Linked DNA regions of Homo sapiens: region 2 is linked to region 1. A link means that fine-mapping ties the variant in region 1 to the expression of a gene that starts in the linked region. Tissue or cell type: iPS cells. Region 1 holds a variant in brackets; the other region holds the start of a gene. All regions are shown on one strand. Distances are from middle to middle.

The links. PIP is the estimated chance that this variant, and not a neighbour inherited with it, causes the effect.
Region 2: it holds the start of AXIN1, and the variant in region 1 is fine-mapped to the expression of AXIN1 in iPS cells (HipSci, PIP 0.95).

The regions. Positions count from the first base shown.
Region 1 is chr16:295,996-298,671 of GRCh38, reverse strand. AXIN1 (axin 1) reads left to right here. Exons shown (of 11, transcript NM_003502.4): 6 at 421-950; 7 at 1,446-1,616. Among named protein-coding and RNA genes, the nearest start is that of PDIA2, 14 kb to the right of the region's middle. The variant G/A (reference allele first, on the strand shown) is at 1,609.
Region 2 is chr16:351,233-353,908 of GRCh38, reverse strand. AXIN1 (axin 1) reads left to right here and starts at 1,186. Exons shown (of 11, transcript NM_003502.4): 1 at 1,186-1,540. RefSeq lists silencers at 518-777, 818-1,297, 1,398-1,477, 1,758-1,807, 1,828-1,897 and 1 more.

The DNA of each region.
Region 1 (2,676 bases):
GCTGGGCGTGGTGGCACACGGCTGTGGTCTCCGCTATTCTGGAGGCTGAGGTGGGAGGATCGCTTGAGCCTAGGAGGCGGAGGCTGCAGTGAGCTGAGATCACACCACTGTTCTCCAGCCTGGGCAACAGAGCAAGAACTTGTCTCAAAAAAAGAATAAAACTAAACTAAATCTGTGCAGAGCTCTGCCCACAGCCGATACATACGCTGCATTCCTTGAGGCCTTGCTGTCTCCGCTCCTTCTGTCTATGCCCCGTCCTGCCTCTCCATCCTCAGGGACAGGACCGGTGGCGAGGGGCCCCCGGCCACCCTGGGCTGGGACGGCATCTGCTGGGGCTGCTGGGTCAGGCCTGATGCTTTTTGTTTTCCCCAAGTGTGCAGCTGGTGCTGAGAGGTGATGGTGCTGCTTGTCCCCACACAGGAGGAGGAAGGTGAGGACGGCGATCCATCGTCAGGGCCCCCAGGGCCGTGTCACAAGCTGCCTCCCGCCCCCGCTTGGCACCACTTCCCGCCCCGCTGTGTGGACATGGGCTGTGCCGGGCTCCGGGATGCACACGAGGAGAACCCTGAGAGCATCCTGGACGAGCACGTACAGCGTGTGCTGAGGACACCTGGCCGCCAGTCGCCTGGGCCTGGCCATCGCTCCCCGGACAGTGGGCACGTGGCCAAGATGCCAGTGGCACTGGGGGGTGCCGCCTCGGGGCACGGGAAGCACGTACCCAAGTCAGGGGCGAAGCTGGACGCGGCCGGCCTGCACCACCACCGACACGTCCACCACCACGTCCACCACAGCACAGCCCGGCCCAAGGAGCAGGTGGAGGCCGAGGCCACCCGCAGGGCCCAGAGCAGCTTCGCCTGGGGCCTGGAACCACACAGCCATGGGGCAAGGTCCCGAGGCTACTCAGAGAGTGTTGGCGCTGCCCCCAACGCCAGTGATGGCCTCGCCCACAGGTGAGCGTGCGCCTGTCAGTGAGGAGGGGGCTTGGGGTGAGGCTGTGTCCCTGCAGAAGGCCAGAACCTCCTCATAAAACTCAGGAAACCCAGGACCGCCAGCAACAGGCAGGAGGCCCCTCTGCTGGAGGGAGTGGACTGGGCCCTGGGTCAGGGGAGTCCACGCCGTGACCTCAGGTGGGAGATGAAGGTTAGGGGACACAGCCCGACCCTGGCTCCCGCTCTGGCCCTCAGTCTTCAGGGGGTGAGCAGTGACTGCCTGTGTGTTTAGAGAGGAAACCAACCCCCAGACAGCACCAGGACAGCGGGCAGGGGACAGCGGGTGGGGGACAAGCTGGCGGGGGACAGCGGGTGGGGGACAAGCGGGCAGGGGACAGCGGGCGGCGGCTGCACCACGGGAGCCTTACAGATGCCAGGAGGGGGCCTCGCAGACGAGGAAGGGGCACAGCCTCGGCCACCGGAGGCCAGGGCGACTCGCAGCTCTTGCCCTTGCAGTGGGAAGGTGGGCGTGGCGTGCAAAAGAAATGCCAAGAAGGCTGAGTCGGGGAAGAGCGCCAGCACCGAGGTGCCAGGTGCCTCGGAGGATGCGGAGAAGAACCAGAAAATCATGCAGTGGATCATTGAGGGGGAAAAGGAGATCAGCAGGCACCGCAGGACC[G/A]GCCACGGGTGAGCACCCCGCACGCAGCCAGCCTCGTGGGGCCTGCTTTGCCACCCCTGGCCTCCGCACAGTCTCAGTGTGTGCAGCTTCAGTGTGTGTGGCGAGTGTCGCCTGTGACGCCTCACACTTCCCCTGTCACTGTGGCACCCTCCCGGGCACCCTCCAGCAGGCTCCCTGGGCCCCACGTCTCCAGGAGGAAAACCTCATGTCCCCAGAGAGAGGCTGTCCCTGAAGCCCCGAGCAGGAGGGAAGCTGACGTGGCTGTCACCCCGCAGGCAGCACAGATGCTCTCGGGAGGTCATTTCCAGTCTGACCCCCACATGAGAATGACCTAAGTCACCTGGGAAGGCCCCCACTGACCATCACTCCCGAGGTGCCCACGGAGGAGCCTTCTGTGCTCACACCTGGCCGTCCTGCTGAGGGCTGGGGAAGGCTCTTGTGTAGCGTGAGCACTTCTCTCCTCCCAGAAGGGCAGAGGCCTCGTGTGTGGTGTGGAGCAAGGCCCCGGCGCCACAGGTCCAGCCCCTGCCGCTGCCCGCCGGGCCGGTCTTGGTGTTGCTCCTGCTCGCCCCCTGGGCCTGCACTCGTGCCCGGAACCCAGCAGGAGGGCCAGGGGCCCCACAGAGGTGGTACCCCCCACCTTCCTGTCGTGGTCAGAGGCAGGTCAGCTGGGAAGTGTTGGCCCTGGTGGGTGGATGGCCCCAGCTTCCTCAGACTTAGGTCCTGATCTGCCCCCCACCCTCACCCAGGCCCTGGCCAGGACGCATCTCCCTCCACATTACTTGATGAGAACTTGTGAGGCAGCTGAGCGCCTGGGGCGTGGCCCTCCTGCCTGTGTTGGAAGCCTGTCCCGCAAGGCCTTGGGGTCCCCATCGGTGCTGACTGAGGTGGGGACGGGCTCATCGTTTTTCTGGGGCTCCCGAGGGAACAGGGGTGCACAGCACCTTGCCTGGCTCATTTTTTGTAGAGGGGGTCTCAGTGTGTTGCCCAGCTGGGTCTCAAGCTTTTGGGCTCAAGTGATCCTCCCACCTTGGCCTCCCAAAATGCTGGGACTACAGGCATGAGCCA
Region 2 (2,676 bases), 55 kb before region 1:
CCGTGGGGTGCCTGGGGCTGTGACCTCATGCTCTGTGGCCTGCAGGGCAAGTGACACGGATCTGGGCAGCCAGGGTGGCAGGATCGGACTGGACCCCTTGGCAGGGCCGCTGTGGAGACAGCCCAGGGGAAGGGGTGCAGGGGTCTGGACACTCCAATGGCCTTGCTCTCGGGCTGGCCTGGGCAGCGGAGGGAAGGAGAACCCTTCTCTGATACTAGATGGTGCCTGGGAGAAATCAAGGCAGAGGGTCCTAGCCGGTGGGCTCTTTGGAGGTTGTGGCTCCTGTCCGGGTGAGAGCCACCATATATTGGGGCCTAACGTGTTCCCTGGCGCTGTGAGTCCAGGCTGCCTTGGGACTCAGGAGGGTGGAGCCCACCCCACCTTCCAAGGGCCCTGGCCATCCCTGCCTGCCGACCACCCCACTCCTGGGAGCCTGCTTCCCTCACGGCGGCGGGCAGGCCGTGGCGGTCCCCACGAGGGCCTCCTCTCCAGGGCCGGCTGGGCAGGGAGCCCCGAGGCCTGCAGCCCCCTGACTGCCCTCCGATGTACTGGCGGCAGAAAAGGGCTGCGCCCCACGTGCGCCCTTCGGGGCGCGCAGTCCGCCCAGTGCTCCCCACGGCCGCGGCCATTCCAAGGACCTGCAACGCCGCCTCTCCCACTCCGCTCTCTGGGAAGCCAAAGCCTCCCGGGCTCCGCTTCCGCACCGCCCCTCGGGAAGACGGCGCGACCGCGCCCCCGGCACGCCCCGCCCCCGGCAGGCACTGACCACGCCCTCTCCCGGCCATGCAGAGACCCCGGCCCATGTTTCTCAACTCGTCTTCTCGCTTCCGGCCCCGCCCCGCGCCGGAGGCCCCGCCCCACGCTCTTTACCTCTTCTGCTCGAGGCGGGCCCCGCCTTACTCCCTGGTCCCCGCCCCACGCCCGAGGCCCCGCCCCGAGCTCTTCACCTCGTCTTCTCGCTTCCGGCCCCGCCCACGCCCCGGCCCCGCCCCGCGCTCCTCACCTGTCCCCTCGCTGTCGGCCCCGCCCCACGCTCCTCACTTTATCCTCGCGCTTTCAGCCCCGCCCCGCGCCTGAAGCCCCGCCCCACACCCTTTACCTCGTCCCCGCGCTGCCGGCCCCGCCCCGTGTTGAGGCCCCGCCCCGCGCTCTCACCTCGTCCCCGCGCCCCGGCCCCGCCCCCGCACTTCCGGACGCCGCCGGCGGGGGCGCTCGGGCCTGGGCTTCGGCGCTCTGGCTCGGGCTCTGGCTCGGGAGGCGATCGTGGCCGCTGCCGCCGCCAGAGCCGGCCGGAGTCGGCCCGGAGCCGCGTCCACGCGGAGCGGGCGGGTGGGAGCTGGCGGCTGGGCCCCTGCGGCGCCCCCGCGGCCTGCCCCGCGTCCGCCTCCGGGCCGCCGAGCCGCAGCCGCCGAGATGGGGGCCGCCCCGGGCCGCGCCCCCGCCGGGTCCCGCCCGCCGCGCTGCCGCTGAGCGCATGGGCCCGGACCGCGCCGCGCCGCTCCGGGAGCCGGGCCCGGGGTCCCGCCACCACCGCGCGCGGGTGAGTAGGGCCGGGCTCCGGGGCGGGCTAGGCCGCGGTAGGCCGGGCGGGCGGGACCCGGAAGCGGCGGGGGGCGCGGGTGGCTGACGCGCGTGGGACCGAGGGGGTGGGCGCGCGGGGAGCTGGGGCCGGGGTGTCCCTGGGCAGCGGGACTGGCGGCGCGGTGGCCGCTTGGAGGTCCGAGGCCTCGGGCGCGTCTCGGGGCACGGAGCAGCTGCAGGGGCCGCGCATCGCGTGCGGGGGCCCGGGAGAGCCGGGCCTGGAGCCCTCCCCGCCGCCCAGAAGTCGGCGGGAGTCCGGCTGTCCCGGAGGAGGACACTCCCGCCCGCCCTCGCCGAGGCCGCGTGCCGGGTCCGGGTCGGGGTTCGGCCTGAGTAGCCGCGTGCTCCGGCGTCCGTACCCTCCAGGTTGATGCCTTGCTGCCCAAACACTGGTCTTTCTCTTGGGTGTGGTTCTTAGATTCTACCCCCGCCCCGCACTTTGGAATTTAGCCCCCGTGAAACCAGAGCTGCACTGCCCGAGCAGTGAAACTTTCAGCTTGGCATTGAAGAAAGTAGAGAAAAACATGTCAGTTCTCTGGGGATTTTTCTCAGCCCATCTATAAGATATATATATATATATTTTTTGTAGAGATGGGGTGTCACTATATTGCCCAGCAGGTGTTGAATTCTTGGCCTCAAGCGATCCACCTGCCTCAGCCTTCCAAGGTGTTGGGACTACAGGGGTGACCACCGTCCTCTAAGATAATTTTTTTTTTTTGAGACGGAGTCTCGCACTGTAGCCCAGGCTGGAGTGCAGTGGCGCTATCTTGGCTCACTGCAACCTCCGCCTCCCGGGTTCAAGCAGTTTTCCTGCCTCAGCCGCCTGAGTAGCTGGGATAACAGGCATGCGCCACCACATCCGGCTAATTTTTGTATTTTTAGTAGAGACAGGGTTTCACCATGTTGACCAGGCTGGCCTGGAACTCCTGACCTCAGGTGATCTGCCCACTTTGGCCTACCAAAGTGTTGGGATTACAGGCGTGAGCCACCGCGCCTGGCCCCTTCTAAGATAATTTATAAAGGGTTCTTATGTGCATGTCAGCCCCTTGTTTTTGCTCACACTTCTGTTCTCTGCTTCTTCAGGAAGAATCTCGA